Homo sapiens: one gene and its partners. The gene in region 1 interacts genetically with each later gene. Each region holds a gene or a part of one and is shown in the gene's direction. Other genes may lie near its edges.

The links.
Region 2: changes in XRN2 (region 1) and NCAPD2 together harm fitness less than expected from each alone (positive genetic interaction), as found in Homo sapiens cells (one large-scale study listed by BioGRID).
Region 3: changes in XRN2 (region 1) and PSMB6 together harm fitness less than expected from each alone (positive genetic interaction), as found in Homo sapiens cells (one large-scale study listed by BioGRID).
Region 4: changes in XRN2 (region 1) and EIF6 together harm fitness more than expected from each alone (negative genetic interaction), as found in Homo sapiens cells (one large-scale study listed by BioGRID).
Region 5: changes in XRN2 (region 1) and MBTPS2 together harm fitness less than expected from each alone (positive genetic interaction), as found in Homo sapiens cells (one large-scale study listed by BioGRID).
Region 6: changes in XRN2 (region 1) and NOLC1 together harm fitness more than expected from each alone (negative genetic interaction), as found in Homo sapiens cells (one large-scale study listed by BioGRID).
Region 7: changes in XRN2 (region 1) and GTPBP4 together harm fitness more than expected from each alone (negative genetic interaction), as found in Homo sapiens cells (one large-scale study listed by BioGRID).

Annotation. Positions count from the first base shown.
Region 1 is NC_000020.11:21,306,331-21,309,830, forward strand, and holds part of XRN2 (5'-3' exoribonuclease 2), read left to right. Parts: intron 1-3,500. UniProt on the Homo sapiens protein: Possesses 5'->3' exoribonuclease activity. May promote the termination of transcription by RNA polymerase II.
Region 2 is NC_000012.12:6,518,102-6,521,601, forward strand, and holds part of NCAPD2 (condensin complex subunit 1), read left to right. Parts: intron 1-2,884; coding exon 2,885-3,009; intron 3,010-3,500. UniProt on the Homo sapiens protein: Regulatory subunit of the condensin complex, a complex required for conversion of interphase chromatin into mitotic-like condense chromosomes.
Region 3 is NC_000017.11:4,794,666-4,798,963, forward strand, and holds PSMB6 (proteasome subunit beta type-6), read left to right. Parts: upstream 1-1,498; 5' UTR 1,499-1,529; coding exon 1,530-1,631; intron 1,632-2,062; coding exon 2,063-2,130; intron 2,131-2,772; coding exon 2,773-2,904; intron 2,905-3,016; coding exon 3,017-3,146; intron 3,147-3,343; coding exon 3,344-3,488; intron 3,489-3,594; coding exon of another isoform or gene 3,595-3,614; coding exon 3,615-3,757; 3' UTR 3,758-3,830; downstream 3,831-4,298. UniProt on the Homo sapiens protein: Component of the 20S core proteasome complex involved in the proteolytic degradation of most intracellular proteins. This complex plays numerous essential roles within the cell by associating with different regulatory particles.
Region 4 is NC_000020.11:35,281,973-35,286,006, reverse strand, and holds the start of EIF6 (eukaryotic translation initiation factor 6), read left to right. Parts: upstream 1-1,234; 5' UTR 1,235-1,281; intron 1,282-1,289; exon of another isoform or gene 1,290-1,514; 5' UTR 1,515-1,519; coding exon 1,520-1,626; coding exon of another isoform or gene 1,627-1,745; coding exon 1,746-1,831; intron 1,832-4,034. UniProt on the Homo sapiens protein: Binds to the 60S ribosomal subunit and prevents its association with the 40S ribosomal subunit to form the 80S initiation complex in the cytoplasm. Behaves as a stimulatory translation initiation factor downstream insulin/growth factors.
Region 5 is NC_000023.11:21,867,117-21,870,616, forward strand, and holds part of MBTPS2 (membrane-bound transcription factor site-2 protease), read left to right. Parts: intron 1-1,350; coding exon 1,351-1,469; intron 1,470-2,381; coding exon 2,382-2,562; intron 2,563-3,500. UniProt on the Homo sapiens protein: Zinc metalloprotease that mediates intramembrane proteolysis of proteins such as ATF6, ATF6B, SREBF1/SREBP1 and SREBF2/SREBP2.
Region 6 is NC_000010.11:102,155,389-102,158,888, forward strand, and holds part of NOLC1 (nucleolar and coiled-body phosphoprotein 1), read left to right. Parts: intron 1-1,630; coding exon 1,631-1,686; intron 1,687-1,797; coding exon of another isoform or gene 1,798-1,800; coding exon 1,801-1,940; intron 1,941-2,042; coding exon 2,043-2,167; intron 2,168-2,660; coding exon 2,661-2,826; intron 2,827-3,500. UniProt on the Homo sapiens protein: Nucleolar protein that acts as a regulator of RNA polymerase I by connecting RNA polymerase I with enzymes responsible for ribosomal processing and modification.
Region 7 is NC_000010.11:998,434-1,001,933, forward strand, and holds part of GTPBP4 (GTP-binding protein 4), read left to right. Parts: intron 1-569; coding exon 570-662; intron 663-2,243; coding exon 2,244-2,435; intron 2,436-2,514; coding exon 2,515-2,580; intron 2,581-3,500. UniProt on the Homo sapiens protein: Involved in the biogenesis of the 60S ribosomal subunit. Acts as a TP53 repressor, preventing TP53 stabilization and cell cycle arrest.

The DNA of each region.
Region 1 (3,500 bases):
CACCATGTTGGCCAAGCTGATCTTGAACTCCTGACCTCAGGTGATCCACCAGCCCCTGCCTCCCAAAGTGCTGGGATTACAGGCATGAGCCACCGCACCTGGCCAGGAATTCCAGTTTTAATATTAGGTTCCCTCAGAACTTTGAAAGAAATTGTTCTTTTGTACTCTCTCATCTAGTAGTGTTGATGACAAGTTCGGTGTTAATGTGATGTATTTATTTAACCAGCAGTTATATAGCATTTACCATTGTTTTAAGAACTTTATTATAACTTGTTTGATCCTCACAACCACATGACTTCTACTGTTGTAATTATTTTTATTACATACAAATAATAGAAGCACGTTATTTGGAGACAACCAATATTGTTATTATGTTATAATAATTACTATGTTTATTGGCCGGGTGCGGTGGCTCACGACTGTAATCCCAGCACTTTGGGAGGCTGAGGTGGGTGGATCACGAGGTCAAGAGATCCAGACCATCCTGGCTAACATGGTGAAACCCCATCTCTACTAAAAATACAAAAATTAGCTGCGCATGGTGGCGCGCCTGTAGTCCCAGCTACTTGGGAGGCTGAGGCAGGAGAATCACTTGCACCCGGGAGACAGACATTGCAGTGAGCCGAGATCCCGCCACTGCACTCCAGCCTGGTGACAGAGCGAGACTCCATCTCAGAAAAATAATGATTATTGTTATGTTTATTATTATTTCAGATGAGAAAATGGAAACACAGCAGGGTCGCGTATCATACCCAAGGTCACTCAGCTGATAAATGTCAGAGCTAGTGTGGAAACCAGAAGGACTTAATTTTTATGCTCATATGCTTTCATTCTTTTGTGATCAGTTTTCCTTCCTAGATTTTAAAAAGATCTTTTTCTTGATAGTGTAAACTTTCATTATTAGGTACCCAGGTATAGATGTTATTTTAAATTCAGATTCATTTTGATCAGTACGTGGCTCACTCTTTGAGTCTGGAGTCTTACGTTCTTCGGTTTTAGGGAATGCTGTTTGATGATTTCTTGACCTTTTTTTCTTCCCTTTCCAGACTCAGGATACTGGTCCTCTTAGACTCATGTATTTTTATTTTTATTTTCTCTCTCATTCTCTGGCTTTCCTTGAAACCTCCCCCAACCTTTGGTGTTTTTGCAGCTTTGTTGAGGTATACTTGACATAGAATAAACTGCAGGTAATTAAAGTGTACAATTTTCTTTTAACTTTTTTCGAGTTGAGGTCTTGCTCTGTCACCAGGCTGGAATGTAGTGTGCAATCATGGCTCACTGCAGCCTCAAAGTCCTGGGCTTAAAGTATATAATTTAATACAGTGCATACATCTGTGAAACCAGCACAACCAAGACAGTGAACGTGACCTCTAAAACATTCCTTCTGCCCTTTTGTAGTTCCTTTCTACTATCCCTCCCTGCCACCTGTCTTTTGCCAACCACTGACTGGTTTGCTTTCTGACCGTATGATAAGTTTTCATTTTCTATAATTTTTTATAAATGAGATTATATAGTATATACTCATTTTTTGCCTCAGTTACTTTCATTCAGTATACTTATTTTGAAATTCTTCCGTTGTTGTATGTGTCAGTAGTTTATTTCTTTTTTGTTTTTATTTTTTTTTGAGATGGAGTCTCGCTCTGTCGCCCAGGCTGGAGTGCAGTGGTGCGATCTCGGCTCACTGCAACCTCCACCTTCTGGGTTCAAGCAATTCTCCTGCCTCAGCCTCCCAAGCAGCTGGGATTACAGGCACATGCCACCACACCCGGCTAATTTTTGTATTTTTAGTAGAGATGGAGTTTCACCATGTTGGCCAGGCTGGTCTTGAACTCCTGACCTCAAGTATCTGCCTGCCTCGTCTTTTAATTTTTGGATAGTATTCTGTGTGTAGATACACCACATTTTATTTATTTATTCAGATGATTGATGAACATTGGGATTGTTTCCAGTTTTTGGCTTTCTGAAAAAGAAACCTATGAACATCTCTGTACAAGTCATTGTAGGGACGTATGCTTGCATTTGTTTGGGGGAAAAACATTAGGAGTGAAATGGTTGGATTGTATATTAGGTGTGTGATTACTTAAAAAGAAAAACCTGCCAGACTTTTTTTTTCAAACTGGTTGTGCCATTTTACATTGGCATCAGCAGCATATCAGGGTTCCAGTTGCTCAACTTCCTCACCAACACTTGATATAGTTAGCCCTTTTAGTTTTAGGTAGTCCAGTGTACTGTTACCTTATTGTGGTTTTAACTTGCATTTCCTTCAGATGCTTATTTGCTTTCTGTATATCATCACGGGCAGGGTGAGGCATCTGTTCAGATCTTTTGCTCATTTTTATCTTCGGTTGTCTTACTTAAATGTAGAGTTTGTTACATATTCTAGATAGAAATCCTTAGTTTGATATATCTTTTGCAAATATTTTCTCTTGATCTGTGGCTTGTCTTTTTACTTCTTAACAGTGTCTTGGGAGCAAACATTTAAAAATTTTAATGAAGTCTGATTAATTTTTTCCCTTTATATTTCTGCTTTTTGTATTTAAGGAATCCTTTGTCAAAGCCAAGGTCTCCTGTGTTTTCTTAGAGAAGTTTTATAGTTTTACTTCATTCTGTGGTTTCCATTTTTTGGTCTAGTCATATGGTGAATTATCGGTCTTTAAATGCTAAAGCCACCTTGCATTCCTTGGATAAACCTCACTTGATCATGTTGTATTATTTTTATATACGTTGAATTCAAGTTTGCTAAAGTTTGCTAAAGTTTTCTTGAGAATTCTTGAGAATTGTGTCTCTGTTCACAAAAGATATTTGTAGCATTCTTGTAATGTGTAGTTGAGATGTCAGAATAATGTTGACCTCAAATTGAGTTCCTTCAGTTTTTTGGAAGAGTTTGTGTAGAGTTAGTATTGTTTCTTCCTAAAATGTTTGATAGAATTTACCAGTGAGGCCATCTGGACTTGGAGTTTTGTGGGAAGGCTTTAAGCTGCAAATTAAGTTTCTTTAGTTGATCTAGAACTATTGAGGTTACCTATTTATTTATTTATTTATTTTTTGGATGAGCTTTTTTAGTTTGTATCTTTCACAGATTTTGCCCATTTCATCTAAGTCAAGCTTGTCCAACCTGTGGCCTGCAAGCTGCATGCAACCCAGGATGCTTTGAATGCGGCCCAGCACAAATTCGTAAACTTTCTTAAAACATCATGAGATTTATGCACAGACCTTTTCTTTTTTTTTCAGCTCATCAGCTGTCGTTAGTATTAGTGGCCCAAGACAATTCTTCTTCCAAAGTGGCCCAGGGAAGCCAAAAGATTGGACACCCCTGATCTAAGTAGTTGAATTGGCTGACATAAAGTTGTTCATAGTATTTTCTTACTATCCTTTTTTTTTTGTTATTAAAATGTTTTCACTCCTGTTTTTACTTCTCTTTTGTTTTCTTTTTTCTTCCTGTTAACTTGTTATTATCCTTTTAATATTGTTAGAATCTGTAGTGATGTTACCTCTTTCAT
Region 2 (3,500 bases), on another chromosome or scaffold:
GTCTGACCATAGGCCTAGTCCACAATTAAGCATGTGTTTCTACTTTATAAATGTTTAAAAAAACTACTGAAACAATTAAATGTTAACAGTATTATAATCAAACATGAGTCCTCCTTCAATTGAAGAAGAGCACCTATAAATAAGTTCTAGTTGTATGATCTTGAATAAGTTGCTTAACTTTCTGTGCCTCGGTTTCATTATCTATAAAATAAGAAATTGATTAGATCTTATGATCTCTAAGGACTTTCTAATTCTAAATTTCATGAACTAATAATATCAAACATGCTTAATACTACCTTAATCTTCAAACCTAGTATGAATCCTGATCTTAGAGAAAAGATTTCTCCTAGTGTTTTTGTGACTCTAGAACTTAACAACAAAAGCCCTTACAGCCGTCAACAAGTTTTTTTTTTTTTTTTTTTTTTTTTTTTTTGAGATGGAGTCTCACTCACTCTGTTGCCCAGGCTGCAGTACAGTGACACGATCTTGGCTCACTGCAACCTCTGCCTCCCAGGTTCAAGCAATTCTCGTGCCTCAGCCTCCCAAGTAGCTGGGACCACAGGCGCGCACCACCACACCGCACTAATTTTTTTATTTTTAGTAGAGACAGGGTTTCACCATATTGGCCAGGCTGGTCTTGAACTCCTGACCTCAGGTGATCCACCCATCTCAGCCTCCCAAAGTGCCATGATTACAGGCGTGAGCCACCGCACTCGGCTGCCAACAAGTATTCTTAAACCTCAGCCACAAGTTATTTGTTATTTATTTACTTCTTACCTAATTGGGCTGAATTTTTTTTTTGGAGACGGAGTCTTGCTCTGTTGCCCAGGCTGGAGTGCAGTGGTGCGATCTTGGCTCACTGCAACCTCCACCTCCTGGGTTCACGCCATTCTCCTGCCTCAGCCTCCCGAGTAGCTGGGACTACAGGCGCCCGCCACCACGCCCGGCTAATTTTTTTTTTTATATTTTTAGTAGAGACGGGGTTTCACCGTGTTAGCCAGGATGGTCTCAATCTCCTGACCTCGTGATCCGCCTGCCTCGGCCTCCCAAAGTGCTGGGATTACAGGCTTGAGCCACCGTGCCCGGCTTGGGCTGTTTTTAGAAGGCTAGAGAGTGGCTTGTTTGCCCTATGACTCCCTTATGTTACTTTAGTGTCTCTCTTTTTATTTTGCTAAAGCAAAAATAGAGACTATAGTTTTATAAGTGCATGTTCCACCAAGCATTCTAGTATTTTCTCCTGTCAATTAGAAAAGGATTGTTTGTTTTTGAGACAGAATCTCACTGTTGCCCAGGCTGGAGTACAGTAGCGCAATCACAGCTCACTGCAGCCTCTCACTGTAGCCTCAACCCTGCTGGGCTCAAGCGATCTCCCACATTAGCCTCCTGAGTAGCCTGGTTAATTTATTTATAATTTGTAGCTGGGATTACAGGTACACACCACCAGGCCTGGCCTTTGCCAGCCTGGGCAACGTGGCAAGAAGATAACATGTAGACAAGCAGTCAAACATGTATTCTTTTTTTCCCCCTTTTATATGACTGATAGAATTCTCTGCCCACTGATCTACCATCTTGTTTTTTTCACTTAACTATGTGTCTCAGTGGTTTTTAAAAATATTTATGGCTGGGTGCAATGGCTCATGCCTGTAATCCCAGCTACTTGGGAGGCTGAGGCAGGAGAATTGCTTGAACCCAGGAAGCAGAGGTTGCAGTGAGCTGAGATTGCTCCGCTACACTCTACCCTGGGTGACAGAGGAAGAGTCCATCTCAAAAAAAAAAAAAAATTTATAGATGGCCAGGTGCAGTGGCTCACACCTGTAATCCCAGCACCTTGGGAGCCCAAAGCTGGTGGATCTCTTGAGGCCAGGAGTTTGAGGCCAGCCTGGCCAACGTGGCGAAATGGCGAAACCCATCTCTGCTAAAATTACAAAAATTGGCCAGGTATGGTGGCACGTACCTGTAATCCTAGCTATTTGGGGAGCTGAGGCATGAGAATCACTCAAACCTAGGAAGCAGAGGTTATAGTGAGCCAAGATCATGCCACTACACTTCAGCCTGGGTGACAGAACAAGACTCTGTCTCTAAAAAAAAAAATATATATATATATATACACATATATATTTATACATAAATAGTTTCCCACTCTCCTCTTTTTTTGAGAGAGAGAGTGTCTCACTCTTTTGCCCATGCTGGAGTACAGTGGTATGATCACAACTCACTGCAGCTTTGATCTCCCAGGCTCAAGTGATCCTCCCACCTCAGCTCCCTCGAGTAGCTGAGACCACAGGCACACACCATTACACCCACAGGCACACACCATCACACCCACAGGCACACACCATCACACCCACAGGCATACACCATCACACCCACAGGCACACACCATCACACCCGGCTAACTTTTTTTACTTTTTGTATAGTTGGGTCTCCCTGTGTTGCCCAGACTGATCTCAAATTCCTGGGCTCACGTGTCCCCATTATTTTTTATGACTACATAGAATCTTATTGTCTGGATGTGCCTGAATTAACTAATTATTGAAAGTTTATTGTTTCTAAACTTAGGAAAGTTTTTAAACAGGTGTTTGGAGTAGGTTTATGATTTTAAAACTTTAAAAAGCCTTATTGGAGTTTTTTTGAAGACTGTAGTAATGCCTTGTAGGTTCAGAAATAGGAAAAGTGTTTGCAGATGAGCAGTCAGGGGAAAAAAATAGGCAAAGTGTTTTGAGCCCTACCCCTTAGTAGGTGCTGTAACAACTTTTTAAGCATGTTAAGTGCTCCTTTTCTCTGGGCAGTAGGTCCAGGGACTTGATAGAATCATGAGGTAAGCTCCCTTACAAACGGCTGCAGTGACATTCTTCTGGGTACTGACAGGCTGGTGTTCTTTCAGAAAGGCCATCATTCTCACTCGAGAAGCCACAGGCCACTTCCAGGAGTCCGAACCCTTCAGTCATATAGACCCAGAGGAGTCAGAGGAGACCAGGCTCTTGAATATCTTAGGACTTATCTTCAAAGGTAATCATTTTCCTTCTTCAGTCAATAAATAACACATGTCAACTGGTATTTACTGAGCATTAACTTTATGCCATCATTGGCCTGGTTAACAGAACCTGGTGCTGAAGAGCCCAGAGATGAATTGGCATTACTTTTGCTCTGGAATGGAAGCAGCCCACGGGCCTAAGATTGATAGTCACAGGGTGACTGTCCAGACCATAGCGGTCTTTAGGTATGGTTTTTGAGAAATTTAGATATTTTAGAGTAAGTTTTAATTTCATATCTTCACATTGTGAAAAGAGATATCCAGGGCCAGATGTCGTGGCTTATGCCTGTAATCCTAACACTTTGGGAGGCCAAGGCAGGAGGATTGCTTGAGCCCAGGAGTTGAAAATCAGCCTGAGCAACATGACGAAACCCCCATCTCTACAAGGGATACCAAAAAAAAATTAGCCAGGTGCGGTGGCACGCACCTGTAGTCCCAACTGCTCAGGAGCTGAAGTGAGAGAATC
Region 3 (4,298 bases), on another chromosome or scaffold:
ACGCCTGTAATCCCAGCACTTTGGGAGGCCGAGGCGGGTGGATCATGAGGTCAGGAGATCGAGACCATCCTGGCTAACAAGGTGAAACCCCGTCTCTACTAAAAATACAAAAAAAATTAGCCGGGCGCGGTGGCGGGCGCCTGTAGTCCCAGCTACTCGGGAGGCTGAGGCAGGAGAATGGCGTGAACCCGGGAAGCGGAGCTTGCAGTGAGCCGAGATTGCGCCACTGCAGTCCGCAGTCCCGCCTGGGCGACAGAGCGAGACTCCGTCTCAAAAAAAAAAAAAAAAAAAAAAAAAGACAAATAGAGCTGGGTTCAGTGGCACACACCTGTAGTCCCAGCTACTTGAGAAGCTGAGGCGGGAGGATCACTGGAGCCCAGGAGTTCGAGGCTGATATAGTGCACCATGATCCCATCTGCACTCCAGCCTGGGAAACACCGCAAGACAAACCCACCCCACACACACACCCCACCCTCGTCTCAAAAAAAAAAAATTAAACCCCAAAAATATATTAAACAAAAGACATATCCCAATTTTAGAATGTGCAAAGAACTTGAAAAAACATTGCATCAAAAAAGACATACAAATGGCCAATTATCTCATGGAAATATGCTCAGCATCACTAATCATTAGAAAAATACCAATGAAAACCACAGGGTACCACTTCACACCCACTGGAATGGCTATAACTAAAAAAATGCACAATAACAAGTGTTGGTGAGGATGTGGAGAAATTGGAACCCTCACACATGGCTTGTAGGGATGTAAAATGGTGCAGTTTCTGTGGAAAACAGTTTGTCGGTTGCTCAAAATGTTAAACATACAGTTATCATAGAACCCATAAATTCCTCTGCCAGCATATACTCCTAAGTATATAACTAAAAGAAATGAAAACATGGTGTGGTCACTTTAGCCCAAAGACTCTCAGGTTTATTTTGTGGGCCCTTTGGACTGTAACTCCATAAGATCGGTACGGCGCAAGCCACTAGGACTGTTTTTTGTTTTGTTTTGTTTTTGCTTTTGTTTTGAGACAGTCTTGCTCTGTCGCTCAGGCTGGAGTGCAGTGGCGTGATCTCGGCTCACTGTAACCTCCGCCTCCCAGGCTCAAGCGATTCTCCTGCCTCAGCCTCCCCAGTAGCCGGGATTACAGGCGCGCCCCACCACGCCCGGCTAATTTTTGTATTTTTTAGTAGAGAAGGAGTTTCACCATGTTGGCCAGGCTGGTCTTGAACTCCTAACCTCATGATCCGCCCGCCTCAGCCTCCCAAAGTGCCGAACGGTTTTTGGGTTTTTTTTGGTTTTTTGGGGGGGGGGTTTTGCTGACTTTCTTGTTTTGTTTGTTGCTTGCCACGCTGCCATCAAGTGCTCACTGTCGCAAAAGAACCGTCCCCATGCAGTACTGTACTTTTCTTTTCCCTTCTGCCGTCAACCTCGGAGTAGCTTCGCTCCCAGAAGGCCTCAAAGCGCGACCAAAGAGCGTGACAGAGCGCTTTACGACAGTTGCTTTGAGGCAGTACCGGAGGAGAAAGATGGCGGCTACCTTACTAGCTGCTCGGGGAGCCGGGCCAGCACCGGCTTGGGGGCCGGAGGCGTTCACTCCAGACTGGGAAAGCCGAGAAGTTTCCACTGGGGTGAGGAAGGAATCGGGGTTCATAGGACGTGCACAAGGCCTGACGCGATGGGAAGATAAAGCCTGAGTGGGGTTGAGAGATCTGGCAGGGGTGGAGAGGAGGTGGAATGTGTTGTGCTCCAGGAATGGGGAGAGGTACCCCGAAGATGGTGGAGTGGTGCGGTAGCTTCGTAGTGGGAGGTGGAGGGTGGGCTGAAGTTTGAAATTCTGAAATCCTGCGAGGCTAGTGAGGATCTTGGGCTTAAGTACGGGATGAGTCTTTTGAGATTTGAGGGTTGGCATTCTGGTATTCTGCGGGGTGCTGAGGCCCCTATAAGATTTGAAAATGGTTCAGCGACGGACAGATTTTGTATTTTTGGAACTAGGTAGAGAGATCATTGAGGTTTGTGTCTGCTGGAGAATGTAGACTTACTCCTTTTTCCCTTTTCCCAGACCACTATCATGGCCGTGCAGTTTGACGGGGGCGTGGTTCTGGGGGCGGACTCCAGAACAACCACTGGGTGAGCTCAGGACAGATTTGTGAAAGGTCTTCCCATCTTCCTTTTCCTTTCCTGCCTGCCAGCCCACCCTGCCTGCCTCCACAGACCACTGTGGGAAGAGAGGTTTCTTCTCTCTCTGGAGATAAAGATTTGTCCCAACTTTTGTTACTTTCAGTTCCCCTCACTCGTTAGTGGAATCCTTACAAAAGTCTGTTCTCCAGCCCGCTTCAGTTTGGATGAGAATAAGCAATACTGGAGGCCAGGCACGGTGGCTCACGCCTGTAATCCCAGTACTTTGGGAGGCCGAGGCGGGTGGATCACCTGAGGTCAGGAGTTCGAGACCAGCCTGGCCAACATGGCGAAACCCCGTCTCTACTAAAAAATACAAAAATTAGCCGTGCGTGGCGGTGCGTGCCTGCAGTCCCAGCTACTTGGGAGGCTAGGGCTAGAGAATCGCTTGGACCCAGGAGGTGGATGTTGCAGTGAGCAGAGATCGCGTCACTGTACTCCAGCCTGGGCAACAGAGCGAGACTCCATCTCAAAGAAAAAGGAAAAAAAGGCAATACTGGACATCCTATCCCTGAGCCCTAAGAGAGTGGGTAGTGATGGGATGGAGGTGGAAGACAGGTGGGCTCCTTTCCTCACTATTCTGCCATCCTGCAGGTCCTACATCGCCAATCGAGTGACTGACAAGCTGACACCTATTCACGACCGCATTTTCTGCTGTCGCTCAGGCTCAGCTGCTGATACCCAGGCAGTAGCTGATGCTGTCACCTACCAGCTCGGTTTCCACAGGTGCTTGTGGGCAGGGGAGGGGCAAGTATCTGAAGGGAGTTGGAAGCTGAGGAGCTAAATAGCCTGACTTCTAGGTCTTGAAACTTTCTCTGTGACTTCCCTGACCCTCTAGCATTGAACTGAATGAGCCTCCACTGGTCCACACAGCAGCCAGCCTCTTTAAGGAGATGTGTTACCGATACCGGGAAGACCTGATGGCGGGAATCATCATCGCAGGCTGGGACCCTCAAGAAGGAGGGCAGGTCAGATCCCCACCCGACCAGAGCACACTTGAGCCAGGACTTTTATCCTCTCCCCAGCCATTTTCTTTTTCTTTCCAGTCTCTACCTCACTTATTCTTACTATTAACGTGCCTCAGACCAATAGCAGAATGGACAGGTGAATGTACGTGTGTTGGAGGGAGGATACGACTGGTGACTCCTCTCCTTCTATCTGGCAGGTGTACTCAGTGCCTATGGGGGGTATGATGGTAAGGCAGTCCTTTGCCATTGGAGGCTCCGGGAGCTCCTACATCTATGGCTATGTTGATGCTACCTACCGGGAAGGCATGACCAAGGAAGAGTGTCTGCAATTCACTGCCAATGGTGAGAGCTTAGGCTTCTGGGCCTATGAGCTTCAACCCCAACTACCCAAGCCAGGCCAGCATTCCTCATTCCTTGCAGTGATCCCGGCATCTGAATCTGAACCCAGCTTTCTTCTTTTATCCACAGCTCTCGCTTTGGCCATGGAGCGGGATGGCTCCAGTGGAGGAGTGATCCGCCTGGCAGCCATTGCAGAGTCAGGGGTAGAGCGGCAAGTACTTTTGGGAGACCAGATACCCAAATTCGCCGTTGCCACTTTACCACCCGCCTGAATCCTGGGATTCTAGTATGCAATAAGAGATGCCCTGTACTGATGCAAAATTTAATAAAGTTTGTCACAGAGAATCTTTGTACTTTGGGGTTCTTTTTTTTTTGACTTCAAGTCCGAATTTGTCTGGCCCATTCCTATTTGTAAAAACCATTGCACTGAACTCAGAGCAAGTTGGAGAGGAGATGAAAGGAGTTTATGAATGCTTTATTCCCCAGTAAACTTTTACATGGGTGGTTTTCAAACCTCTTCTCCAAATTGCCTTCCCCCAAACTTCCTTTCCCCCACCATATCCAGGTCCTTGAACCACTGGATTGTGGTTGGTGTTGGGGGTACCAGCAACACCCACTCCCTGTTCAAGCCCAAGGTGGAACTCGGAATTCTGACTAAAACTGGAGTCACCTTCCTTCAGCCTGCTTCCTGCCAGTCATCCTGGGTGACTACTGTCCCTAAGGCCACAAAGACCAGCCTCCTCCAGCCCAGCCTCATGGTCCCCTCTCTCCACACTTAACCTCTGTTACCTCACCTTGTGGTCAGCAGTAGCA
Region 4 (4,034 bases), about 14 Mb from region 1:
ACTGAGTGGGTCTGAGGTGAATGAGTGAGGAAGAGCAGAGTATGTGGATACCCGGAAACACACACACACACACATCATCATTATCATCATCATCATTGTCGTCGTCATCATCTTGCTGAGTCATCATCATCATCATCATCATTGTCGTCGTCATCATCTTGCTGAGTGTCTCTTGAAGTACAGGCTGTGACAGGTTGTGGGCCATTTTCCTGAACTCACCACTTACCCGGGATAGTAAACATGATACACATCAATAAAGGCAGACTTTATTGTGAATCACAGCGCCTGGTGTATCCTGAACTTTGAGGAGTTATGGGAGGGACACGTTGGGGGAATGGGAAGGGCACCATTCAGGCCAATTATGGGGAAACCCCTGGAGGAGGGTGAATGCCGAAGGAGGAATTGGGGGAGTCCAGGGGCTCCAAGTTACCACTGTGACATTTTGAGAGAACCCGGGGCTTTTGCAGATTCTACAAAATGTGGGCCAAGTTCATCCTGTCCAAGTGTGCAGCAGGGCCCTTGGCCCCCATCACTATCCTGGGGACAGAAGTTGGCTGCTGAGTGAGTGATAGAGGCCGTGCGAGAGGCACATCGTGGAAGCCAACCAGCACCCACATCCTTGCCCACCCTGGACCCCTTTCCAGCCTTTTCCTGAGCCCCTGCTTCCTCAGTCCTCCCCTCTCTCCAGCACCTGCAGCCTGGCTGCCTTTCCGTCTCTGGCTGCGCTCTTTCTCCAGCCTCGGTCTGGCCGCACTTCTGCCTCCTGGAACTCTCTCCATGGGTAGCCTCTTCTAGTCCACCCGTCTTCAGCCCCTCATCTCATTCGTCAGCACTCCACTCCCCTGCTGGGCTCCAGACATGGACTTCTGTCCCTCAAGGCACAGCTGGACTCATCCCTTTCCCCAAACCTGCCCTTCCTCCGGCTTCATTTCCATCAATACCTCCATCATCAACCCTTCCGCGAGACACTCCTGGCCCCTCCTCTCCCTCATGCCTCACAACCGACCAGCCGGAGGTCTAGGTCGATGACAGCTCCTAAAAAGCTCCTGAATGAATAATGAATGAATGAACGCGAGCAGGCTAGGCGTGGGGCCAGGCGGGGTCGCGCCCAGACCGCTCGCGACCATAGAGTCCGCCGGAGGCCGGAGGTAGAGGGGCTGGATGCGTGGCGGGGAGCGCCGGGCTCTCCCGGAAGTCTCCCTGGACGGAAGTGGAAACGGAAACCTTTTTAGGGAGTCCAAGGTACAGTCGCCGCGTGCGGAGCTTGTTACTGGTTACTTGGTAAGCTGGTGTGAGGGGAACCTGGGAGGGTCAGCTCCGGTCCTGGGTCGGGAGGGGTGGGGGCCAGAGGATTCAGGGCCGGAGGTTCTGGTGGGGGCCCAGTGGGCGGGACCCGAGGACGGAGGGGCCGGGAGGCCGAGAGGGGCGGGGTCGCGGCGGGGCCTGAGGGACGGAGGCCGGGATACTTGGGAAAGGATCCGCCGGCCTTGAACTCCCGCCTCCGCCGCCCCTAGGCCTCATGGCGGTCCGAGCTTCGTTCGAGAACAACTGTGAGATCGGCTGCTTTGCCAAGCTCACCAACACCTACTGTCTGGTAGCGATCGGAGGCTCAGAGAACTTCTACAGGTGCGGCGGGAGCCCCGGGGCTTACGGTGGCGGGGAGGCGTGCGCAGGAGTCAAGAGCTCCGGCAGTGGGAGGGTGCCGGCCCCTCTGCCCCGCCACCACCGAGTCCATGTCCCTACAGTGTGTTCGAGGGCGAGCTCTCCGATACCATCCCCGTGGTGCACGCGTCTATCGCCGGCTGCCGCATCATCGGGCGCATGTGTGTGGGTAAGGCAGGTGGAGGACGCCGAGGGAGGGAGTGGTCTCCAAGCACCATTAATTACACCCCCGGAGGGAACCCGGAGTGACCTAGGGATTCCCAGGGTATCATCTGTTATCTCTGGGCACTATAGAATCTCTCAGGCCAAGCGTCAGGAGATCGGGGCAACCCTCTAGCAAAGGCTGCTGGATAATAGTAATAACAAATAATGTAAAGTGCTTTCACTCCTGTTCTCATTCCTTCGTCACAAAGACACTAGAAGGTAGGAGTTACTGGCCTAACTTGACTGATGAGGAAGTTGAGACTTGACCTAAGTGACTCAGTAAGTTCCACACCTAGTTCCTAGTGTTGGAGAAGGATTTTTCTCTTTTTTTTTTTTTTTTGAGGCCAGATTTTTGCTCTTTCGCCCAGGCTGGAGTGCAGTGGCAAGATCACAGCTGTCTGCATCCTCAACTTCTTAGGCTCAAGTGATCCTCCCACCTCAGCCTACCAGGTAGCTAGGGCCACAGGCACGTGCCACCACACCTGGCTAATTTTTACATTTTTGGTAGAGACGCGGCCTCCCTGTGTTGCCCAGCCTGGCCTTGATCTCCTGGGCTCAAGTGATCTTCTTACCTTGGTCTCTTAAAGTGTTGGGATTATAGGCGAGAGCCACTATACCCAGCCGAGGATTTGTATCTCATCTCTCCCTGCCACTGACTGGGCAAGGTGCTTTCTCTTTCTAAGCATCCATTTCTGTCTCTGTAAAGATTAGCTAAGATATGCGGTCTTCCTGCTCAGTTACGTTGGAATCTTAAATTCCCTTTACCACATCTCTACCCTACCTTCCTACCTGTCAGCACTGTTAATTCTGGTCGTTGGTCCTTTCCTTTTTATTATTATTATTATTTTTTTTTGAGATGGAGTTTTCGCTCTTGTTGCCCAGGCTGGAGTGCAATGGCACGATCTTGGCTCACTGCAACACTCTCTTCAAGTGATTCTCCTGCCTCAGCCTCCCAAGTAGCTGGGATTACAGGCGCATCCCGCCACACCCGGCTAATTTTTTTGTATTTTTAGTAGAGATGGAGTTTCACCATGTTGGCCAGGCTGGTCTTGAACTCCTGACCTCAGGTGATCCTCCCACCTCGGCCTCCCAAAGTGCTGGGATTACAGGCGTGAGCCACTGCGCCCGGCCGGTCCTTTCATTAAGCTGGATCTGTCTTCCATTACTGCTGCCCATTGTTTCTTAGTTCTGCTCATTGAGGTCACTTTTAGAAGTCTGTTTATTTTATTTTTTTACTTTTACTTTAATTTTTAAAAATCTTAAGCCTGCTTGGGAGGTCGAGGCAGGTGGATCACCTGAGGTCAGCAGTTCGAGACTAACCTGACCAACATGGAGAAACCCCGTCTCTACTAAAAATACAGAAATTAGCCGGGTGTGGTGGCGCATACCTATAATCCCAGCTACTTGGGAGGCTGAGGCGGGAGAATTGCTTGAACCCTGGAGGTGGAGCTCACCCTGCGGTGAGCTGAGATTGTGCCATTGCATTTCAGCCTGGGCAATAAGAGTGAAACTGTGTCTCAAAAAAAAACAAAAAACAAAAAACAACAACAACAAAAACTTAAGCCTAGTGACCTCAAAGTATTTTCCTATTCAGTTAAAATACTCTGATCTCTAACCATGCCCTTAGGACTTGAAGCAAGTTCTGACAACAAGGGAGATTTTAGCTTAGTCCTTGTGTATTTTATGATGGGAGTGACCTGGAATTCAGAAATTGATTGGCGTGTATTTGTAGATTGTTCATTCTTGTTGCTGTATGGTGTGTTTTGTGTAAGTATATCACAACGTATTCATCCATTCCATCGACAGTGCATTTGGGCAGTTTTCACTTTGGTCTGTTAGGAATAGTGCTGCTGGCCGGGCATGGTGGCTCACGCCTGTAATCCCAGCACTCTGGGAGGCCGAGGCGGGCGGATCACGAGGTCGGGAGATCGAGACCATCCTGGTTAACACGGTGAAACCCCGTGTCTACTAAAAATACAAAAAAATTAGCCAGGTGTGGTGGCGGGTGCCTGTAGTCCCAGCTACTTGGGAGGTTGAGGCAGGAGAATGGTGTGAACCGGGGAGGTAGAACTTGCAGTGAGCCGAGATTGTGCCACTGCACTCCAGCCTGGGCAACAGAACAAGACTCCGTCTCAAAAAAAAAAAAAAAAGTAATAGTGCTGCTATGT
Region 5 (3,500 bases), on another chromosome or scaffold:
AATAACCAAAATAAACAAATTGAAAGTATTTATTTACTAAATACTGAAATATTACTACCAGCAACAGCTTTATTGTCACTGGAATAGTGGAAAAGAATGGAAATTCCAGAAGCAAGCCAAAGAATAGATGAAAATGTATTGTAAATTAAAAGTTGCATTTAATTTAGTAGGGAAAGAATGCACTGCTCAGTAATTATTAGCTAAACATTTGAATAAAATTAGTTATATGTATCAGTCACACCATACACAAAAATAAATTCCAAATGGTAAAAGATTTAAATGTAAAAATCACACACATACACAAAAATAAATTCCAAATGGTAAGAGATTTAAATGTAAAAATAAAACTATTTAAACCATCCTTCTCCACAAAAAGAGTGATTACTTACATAATGTTAGGGGCGAGAAAGTCTTCCTTTGCACAGCTGCAAAGGTTGAATATATAATGGAAAAGATTAATGAATTTGAGTACCTAAATTTTAGGGTTTAAAAAAAAATAATAAAGACGGTTTTCTCTTTTTTTTTTTTTTTTTGAGACGGAGTCCTGCTCTGTGCTATGTCACCCAGGCTGGAGCGCAGTGGCACGATCTCAGCTCACTGTAGTCTCCGCTTCCCGGGTTCAAGCAATTCTCCAGCCTCAGCCTCACAAGCAACTGGGACTACAGACGCGCGCCACCATGCCTGGCTAATTTTTTTGTATTTTTAGTAGAGACAGGGTTTCACCATGTTGGCCAAGCTGGTGTTGATCTCCTGACCTCGTGATCCGCCCGCCCTGGCCTCCCAAAGTGCTGGGATTACAGGCGTGAGCCACCGTGCCTGGCCGACAGTTTTCTTATGGTTTGTTGCTTTATAGTCTGTGACGTGATGTAAAATATATGCTCGGTTTGTTCCACCAATATTGTTCTGCATAATAGTTTAGTTCTTAAAACAACCTCCTTTTTCCAAGTACCATTTGAGTTTCTGTACCCCTGTTTAGCAAGAGTTTTTTTTATTTGAATGTATATGAGGTTTCTTTCAAAGATCACAAATATGTTTAAATTAGTGATATATACATTTTCTGAAAAGAGAGTATAATTAGTGGAAGATATTAGTTCTATCAGTATCAAATCATGTTAGCATGTGGTCTTCCTAGTGTGGTATTAACATGCCCATTTTAGATTTCAATATCTAAAATGAAAGTAACTAATAATTGAACATCTGTCTGCTCTACTAATAAGTAGATATTTTTGCCTCATTGCTTCTTCTGATCACTTTATTAATTTATCAGAATGCCCAAGTGTTGTGAGGTCCAGCTACTTATATCATTCCTGCCCCCGGTTGAGCTTATTGCTTTTTTTCCTCTCTTTCCAGGTATCTGGCATAATTTTGTCCTTGCACTCTTGGGTATTTTAGCTCTTGTTCTCCTCCCAGTAATTCTCTTGCCATTTTACTACACTGGAGTTGGGGTGCTCATCACTGAAGTTGCTGAGGTAAATAATGGATTACTCAGGGCATTCTTTCATCAGATGTTGTGATGTAATACCTAGCATCTATTCAGAAACTTTTATTCAAGATCTCTTCATATACAAAATGCTTAGTTTCTTCTGAAGAAATTACTGTAGTCCTCTCAAATCTAACAAATAATGTTGGGAAACACATTGGTTTTTTTAAAGTTTCATGAAAATTGTTTTTGTCCTGATGCTGTACTTAGGAAGATAGTATCAAGATTTTCTACCTGTAGTTTATTGGTAAAATGCATCATTTACCTTTTCTGTTTATTTTTATATCTCTGCTTTTGAGTCAAATGTCTTTACGCCTCCTAAGTAGTAAGAAAGATGAAACCTAGGCTGTCCAGCCGTAACATTTCATAGGAGTTTAAGTTAATGTCTTCAACTCTGTATTTCACTCCCTTAGACAATAACTGCTATGATGGCATCAAATCTTGTATTCAGACATTAGAAAGAGGAAAATTACCTTTGTGAGCAATTGGCTTACATATACATTGTACTGATGGTATTGCCTGCATATTGGGGATATGAAAGGATGTGTCTTATTGTTTTATGCGTTAAGGATATAGGAAAGGCAAGACAGTCTGATGATACTTTCACCAAAAAATTTTTAATTGGCAGTTTGGGAAAAAATTTTATCATTTTAGTCTTAACAGTCAGCAAGTCGGCTTTTTTTCAATTGTGAAAAATTCAAAATCTTGGAGAATTTGGGAAAAGCAACTATAATTGTTGGGTTTTATTTTAATTTTCTAGGACTATGTCTTGAATTCAAAGCTGGATTATTTTCTGCATTCAAACTATTCACTTAATTAACTCAGTGTCTTTATTATTTGCTCAGATTAATTATAGCTTGTCTTCATGCATTATCTGATTTGGTTTTACCCTCTTCCCAAGGACTCTCCTGCCATTGGACCCAGAGGCCTTTTTGTGGGAGACCTTGTCACCCATCTACAGGATTGTCCTGTTACTAATGTGCAAGATTGGAATGAATGTTTAGATACCATCGCCTATGAGCCCCAAATTGGTTACTGTATAAGTGCATCAACTTTACAGCAGTTAAGTTTCCCAGTTAGAGGTGTGTATATTTCCTCAATATAATATAATGCTTCAAGCACCAGTACCTGCCATTCACTAATCCTTAAACCATGTCTATACATTTATTCTGTTCTAATCTGTTTAAAGCAAATCAGTAAAGTAAATAGATTCCAACCAATAGACATTTTTCTTGGTAAGTTGGATGCTAATATGTGTTTCCTTTATTATATATTGTTGAACTTCTAACTATTTTCATTATATCATATTTAACTTTTAGGACTCTAATATTTTCTGCTTTCAAAACACTTGTATTAAATCATAGCCGGGCGCAGTGGCTCACGCCTGTAATCCCAGCACTTTGGGAGGCTGAGGCGGGCGGATCACTTGAGGTCAGGAGTTCATGACCAACCTGGCCAACATAGTGAAACCCCATCTCTACTAAAAATACAAAAATTAGCAGGGCATGGTGACGGGTGCCTGTGATTTCAGCTGCTCGGGAGTCTGAGGCAGGAGAATCGCTTGAACCCGGGAGGTGGAGGTTGCAATGAGCCGAGATCGGGACATGGAAAGAGACTCTGTCTCAAAAAAAAAAAAAAAAATCAGCATTCAAGGTCAATCATAACCAATTAACTAATTCCAATAATCAAATACCCCAATATAATATTATCTTTATGCATGTCTGTAGATATATTATAGTACTTTAAACTTTTATAATTGAAAAAGGGAATATAAGTAATAAGAACCGGTTCTACTTTGCATAAGCTTATGTCAGAACAGATAAACAACGATAGTTAACAACTAAATATATAAAAATCAAAGCATAAACATTCTGTATTAATATATTGTTAGCCCAACACAGACATGCAATAAGGAAAGATTACAAGAAATAAGAAGGAACTTGGCAAACAAAAAACCCCATCTGGGATTTAGAAAAAATTCCCTTACTTCTTAAAAATTCCCTTAATACTTAAACAGTTC
Region 6 (3,500 bases), on another chromosome or scaffold:
AAAAAGAGAGAGAGAGAGAGATGGAGGTCTCACTGTCTTGCCCAGGCTGGTCTTGAACTCCTGTCCTTAAGTGATCCTCCTGCCTTGGCCTGCCAAAGTGTTAGCGTACCTGCGCCCGGCCTGAATGCATTTTTTTTTTTTTTTGAGACTTACTCTGTCGCCCAGGCTGGAGTACAATGGTGTGATACTGGCTCACTGCAACCTCAGCCTCCTGGGTTAAAGCGATTCTCCTGCCTCAGCCTCCTGAGTAGCTGGGATTACAGGTGTGCACCACCATGCCCAGTTAATTTTTTGTGTTTCTGGTAGAAATGGGGTTTCACCATGTTGGCCAGGCTGGTCTCAAACTCCTGACATCATGATCTGCCTACCTCGACCTCCCATAGTGCTGGGATTACAGCAGACCTGAGCCACCGTGCCTGGCCCTTAAATGCAGTTCTTTACATTCAATACAGTACTTACTAGTCTTGTTTCTTTCTTTTTTTTTTTGAGACAGAGTCTTGGTCTGTCGCACAGGCTGGAGTGCAGTGGCGCGATCTCAGCTTACTGCACCCTCCGCCTCTGGGGTTCAAACGATTCTTCTGCCTCAGCCTCCCGAGTACCTGGGATTACAGGCGCCTGCCACCACACCCGGCTAAGAGACAGGGTTTCTCCATGTTGGCCAGGCTGGTCTTGAACTCCTGGCCTCAGGCGATCTGCCCGCCTTGGCCTCCCAGAGTGTTGGGATTATAGGCGTGAGCCACTGCATCCCGCCTGGAGGCTTATTTCTAATGATTTGGTATTATAATCCACATTGCAGGAAAAACCTTCTTGTATTAGTGTTTGTACCCTCAAGTAATGGATAAGATTACATTCTTAGATAGTACATTGCTAGAGTAAAGAGAGAGCCTTTTTTTTGGCAGAGGGGTAGAGATGGGGGTCTTGCTATGTTGCTTAGGCTGGTCTTGAACTCCTGGCATCCAGTGATCCTCCTGTCTCAGCTTCCCAAAGTGCTGAGATAACATGAGATAACAGGCATAAGCCACTGTGCCCAGTCAAAAGTGATTTTTTTTTTTTTTTGAAATGGAGTCTTGCTCTTGTTGCTCAGGCTGGAGTGCAGTGGCGCGATCTCCTAGGTTCAAGTGATTCTCCTGCTTCAGCCTTCTAGGTTCAAGCAATTCTCCTGCTTCAGCCTCCCAAGTAGCTGGGACTACAGACATCTGCCATCATGCTGGGCTAATTTTTGTTTTAGTAGAGATGGGGTTTCACCATGTTGGCCAGGCTGGTCTTGAACTCCTGACCTCTTGATCTGCCTGCCTCGGCCTCCCAAAGTGCTGGGATTACAAGCATGAGCCACCGTGACTGGCTGATTTTTTGTTTTGTTTTGTTTTAGGACTTTGATCAATATAGATTGGCAGGCAGGGGGTTAGATGGTTAGATGGTGCCGCAAACATAGGAGTAGCCCGTTTTTTACATCAGAAATTGGGAAATCCACAAATAGAATATTTTTCTCCTGATTTATGCACGTAGCAAAAGTTTTATGAAGATGTAACATTTATACCAAATTTAGTAATTATGTATGTAACAGGCCACATTTAATGAAAGCATAACCAGGATAAAATAATTTCCTTACCCAGCTCTTTTTCTTCTACAGACACAGCAGGATGCCAATGCCTCTTCCCTCTTAGACATCTATAGCTTCTGGCTCAAGTAAGCCTTTCCTGTTCCATTTTGGCTATTTTCTCCCCCAAGATAGGCTGGGCTGTGTTTCTTGGTTTGGGAAGATTCCAGTCCCCTAGAAATTGGTCCAATCTACCTCAGCAGGTCTGCCAAGGTCCCAGAGCGAAAGTTACAGGCAAATGGACCAGTGGCTAAGAAAGCTAAGAAGAAGGCCTCATCCAGTGACAGTGAGGACAGCAGCGAGGAGGAGGAGGAAGTTCAAGGGCCTCCAGCAAAGAAGGCTGGTAAGGCAGAGTAGCAGGTGGGCTTGGTGGTGCCAGGAAAAGAATTTACAGCCTGCTTGTTTCACATGGCTGATTCTTACTGGGACCTGTGTGTTTGTTCAGCTGTACCTGCCAAGCGAGTCGGTCTGCCTCCTGGGAAGGCTGCAGCCAAAGCATCAGAGAGTAGCAGCAGTGAAGAGTCCAGTGATGATGATGATGAGGAGGACCAAAAGAAACAGCCTGTCCAGGTTTGCAGCTTTGGGAAGAAAAAGGGGTTTAAGGATTAGAAAGGAAGAAACCTAAAATCTTGGCCTCTAGCTTGTAACCAAGGGGTGATGGCGGCAATACAATAGGTGATTATGAGGAAGAAAATCTGGGGATTTTCAGGGAGCTGATAAAAGTATGAGGTCTGGAAGGGATGTGTGAGGTTGAGGTCAGGCTCCGAATCTAGAGGAAATTAAACCCATTCTGCTTGAGGAGTTTGGGTTCTTCTGGGACACTATTCAGGGCTCCAAGAATAAGAGAGAGTGTTTTCCTGGGAGCTTTGGCAGGATAAGGCAGGAACAGGGCCAGTGTATCAAGTGGCTGAACTTTGTTGTTTTTTGCCCTTTCCGTATCCTGTCCTTAGCTTTCTTTTGCTCTTACTGCTCCATTAGGCCCCTAAAAATAAAAGGAACCTAGGATGCCCTTTGGGTACCCGGAAGCTTTTGCTGATTTCTCTCCTTGTGTCTTTTCTAACAGAAGGGAGTTAAGCCCCAAGCCAAGGCAGCCAAAGCTCCTCCTAAGAAGGCCAAGAGCTCTGATTCTGATTCTGACTCAAGCTCCGAGGATGAGCCACCAAAGAACCAGAAGCCAAAGATAACACCTGTGACAGTTAAAGCTCAGACTAAAGCCCCTCCCAAACCAGGTACTGTTTCTGTTCCCAAGAGGCTGGGCTGGGGACCAGATTGCTCTGGGGACTGGAGTTAAAATTGCCGATTTGGCACAGGGGTGAAATGGTACTGTTTGTTGAACTGGAGGTGTTGATTACTGGTCTTTTAATTTTAAAGGTTTTACTAATAAATAACAAGATTTCATAGGAGCTAGTAAATAGAGAAAGTTATTGCAGCAAGAAAAAATGTGTATTTTTTTTAATGGTATCCATTTGGTATTTTGTGACATTTCATAGACATTTTATGTTTTCACACATCCCATTCCACTGTAATCACTTAAATATCTATTTGTTGTGCTTTTCACTGCCATTTTTACTCTTGTATGTTCATTCTATGAGACAAATGAGAATTTTTCTTTTTTTCTGTAACTTGTGATGAGGGTTAGGTTATTTCTCTGAATGGAGGTTGAAGTGAAAGATTTTAGAGGGCGTATTGAGATTATTTATGTCATCTTTTCTAAGAAGACAGTTTTATTCCTGCCATGGGATAGGAAAGGTATCCTTTGATGTGGTAAACCATGGCTGGCATTCTCCTCGATGGCTGCTCTAAAGTTGAAAGAATTGGTGGACTCCTGGCCAGGCACAGTGGCTCACACCTATAATCCCAGCACTTTGGGAGGCTGAGGCGGGCGGATTGCTTGAGGTCAGGA
Region 7 (3,500 bases), on another chromosome or scaffold:
GTTTTATTTTGTCTACAGGTTGCTGTGACATGGTGACCAGCAAAGCTCTGCAGGGTCCTTGCTGATTTTTCAAATGCTTGTCAGCTCTGAACCTGCCCTGAGCTCTGAGCCAGTGCTCTGTGGCCGATTTGGTGGCCACTGCACTGGGTGGCTTTTTAAATTGCAGTTTAATTCAGCAAAATGAAAATTTCAACTCCTCAGTCACATGAGCCACATACTGAAAGTTCATTAGCAGTGCATGACTGGTGGCCCGGTTTGGACAGTGCAGACAGAACATGCCTGTCATCATAAAGAGCTCTGCGGGCATTGCAGGCGGTGGGGCAGGACTTGGGAGGGTGAGGGGAGGTGGTGGCTGTCCTCCAAATGCCAGCCCTCACGCTGTCCTAGTACCCCAGTCCTTGGCCTGGTGGTGCAAAGGGAGAGGTACCAGGCTCCTATTCGATGCAGTTTTATCGTGTGAGGTTTCTTCTATGGTTATTTCCTACCCAAAATCAGTCTTGTTAAAACACACAGATCCCACGTGTACACAGAGGAAATGAGGTGATTCTGAAAGTTCTCACTTGTTCCAGGTGACGAGAGCAGACGTGGATGTCCAGCCCTATGCGTTCACAACCAAGTCTCTGTTTGTTGGGCACATGGATTATAAGTATCTACGTTGGCAGGTGAGAGTCTTGTCTTTATTTTTATTCATTTATTTATTTTGAGTTGGAGTTTCACTCTTGTTGCCCAGGCTGGAGTGCAGTGGCATGATCTCAGTCCACTGCAACCTTCACCTCCCAGGTTCAAGTGATTCTCCTGCCTCAGCCTTTCGAGTAGCAGGGATTACAGGTGCACACCACCACGACCGGCCAATTTTTGTGTTTTTTTAGTAGAGAGGGGGTTTCACCATGTTGGCCAGGCTGGTCTTGAACTCCTGACTTCAGGTGATCTGCCCGCCTTGGCCTCCCAAAGTGCTAGGATTACAGGTGTGAGTCACACTGCACCTGGCAAGAGTCTTGTCTTTAAACAGAACAAATATCTTGGTTTATCAAGAACTTGAAATTTCTCCATCATCATAAAGAAAACTCATCTGAGCTCTTGGGATGCATAAGAACAGGTCGCATGTCTCTGATATAATTCAGGGGAGGCAGCCAGCTGCCAGTGTGGATTTCTGCATTTTCTTAACATAAAATGAAATTATCTTTGTGTCATTTCTAACTCTGTTATCAGAAATGGCATATATACAGTTTAAAAGCGTGAAGCAGGCTGGGCACAGTGATTCACGCCTGTAATCCCAACACTTTGGGAGGCCAAGGCAGGCAGCTAACCTGAGGTCAGAAGTTCGAGATTGGCCTGGCCAACATGGCGAAACCCCATCTCTACTAAAAATACAAAAATTAGCTGGACGTGGTGGTGGGTGCCTGTAATCCCAGCTACTTGGAAGGCTGAGGCTGGAGAATCGCTTGAACCCAGAAGACAGGGGTTGCAGTGAGCCGAGATTGTGCCATTGCACTCCAGCCTGGGCGACAGGAGCGAAACTCTGTCTCAAAAAAAATAAATAAATACAAAGCAAGAAGCAATGTTTCCACACTCTAATTTTGTAAATTGTGAAGAAAGTAATTCCTAAGACATGGGAGGGTTCTCAGTTATCCCAGTTTTTGTGTTTTATGATGTCGCTGGTAAAAAGAGGAGTCATTTCTCTCAACATCATGGCTAGCATTTCTTTGAGCTCTACAGGGTTCCTCCTCCCTTTTTTGATGTTTAAATAGTATGTACTTTTCTGTCACTGGTTTATTTTGTGGTATTCAGTTTGGGAGACCTACTTTTTTTTTTTTTTTTTTTTTTTTGAGATGGAGTCTCTGTCACCCAGGCTGGAGTGCAGTGTCGCTATCTTGGCTCACTGCAAGCTCCGCCTCCCTGGTTCACGCCATTCTCCTACCTCAGCCTCCCGAGTAGCTGGGACTACAGGTGCCCGCCACCACGCCCAGCTAATTTTTTGTACTTTTAGTAGAGATGGGGTTTTGCCGTGTGAGCCAGGATGGTCTCGATCTCCTGACCTCGTGATCCACCCGCCTCGGCCTCCCAGAGTGCTGGGATTACAGGTGTGAGCCACCGCACCCAGCCCTACTTTTTTTTTTTTTTAACTACAATTCTGCTGTAAGATTATTAGGTCTGGTTGGGTGTGTGTGAGTGACTTCTGGGATGTGCTGGACAAGAAGCTTGTGGGTGAGTGTGCTTTCAGTGACAAGGTCTGGCTGTGTTAGGTTGTAGACACTCCTGGGATCCTGGACCACCCTCTGGAGGATAGGAACACCATCGAGATGCAGGCCATCACTGCCCTGGCCCACCTCCGTGCTGCGGTCCTGTATGTGATGGATTTGTCTGAGCAGTGTGGGCATGGGCTGAGGGAGCAGCTAGAACTCTTCCAGAACATCAGACCTCTCTTCATCAACAAGGTGTGTGTGGTCACTCATGTTTTGCTTCATATCCTGCAGTACGAGAATAATGATTTCATTATTTTTCTTCCTTGCCTAGCCTCTCATAGTTGTAGCCAACAAATGTGATGTGAAGAGAATAGCTGAACTTTCTGAAGATGATCAGGTAAATCACGTTAATATTTTGAATATTTCTTACTTACCAATTCTGAATTCTCATCTCAGACAACCAAAGTTTAGATGAAGGAATTTTAGCAATACTAGTCCACAATTGTATTTTATAGTTGAGATAATATCCTCAGTGGTTTAGTGAAAAGACATAATAAAAACTTAGTTATTGGCAAACTAAAACGAAAACATAAGTTTCTGGATTCTTTGTTCTTGAGTGTGTGGAAGCATCTGTATTTGATGGGTTGGACTTTTGGAAAATGTGATTACTTAGGAGAGAACTGTTGGAGAAGGGTGCTCACAGGTGTTACTTCATAAAACAGGTTCTGTGATTAAATGAGTTTGGAGACTAATGATTGAGTGAAGGAGAAGGAGGATCTTGGAATTTGGGCTTTCTGGATCTGGATCTATGAGTGAGACGTGCCTGCTAGCTTTCTCCAAGAGGCAGGCAGTATTGTTGGACATAATTTTTCAAACTGATTGAATCCTACAACCTTTTTAATAGGCATCCTTCATGATAAATGCTTTTAGAAGCGTGCACTGGTGGAGTGGCTTTCAAATTGTGGTCCTGGCCCAGCAATGTCAGCATCACCTTCTTAATTTCTTCCTTAATTTCCTCATTGATCCATTGGTCATTCTGGGACATGTTTATAATTCTCATGGGTGGTTTTTTTTTTTTTTTTTACAGTTTTGAAAGTATCTCTTGGTATTGATTTCTAGTTTTATTCCACTGTGGTCTGAAAAGATACTTGGCAATTTTTAAAAATTGATGAGATTTGTTTTGTGGCCTAACATATGGTCTATCCTGGAGAATGTTTCATGGACTGAGGAGAGGAATGTGTTTTATGCAGCGGTTGGATGACATGTTCTGTAGATGTTTGGTCTACAGTGCACTTTTTTTTTTATTTTATTTTTGTT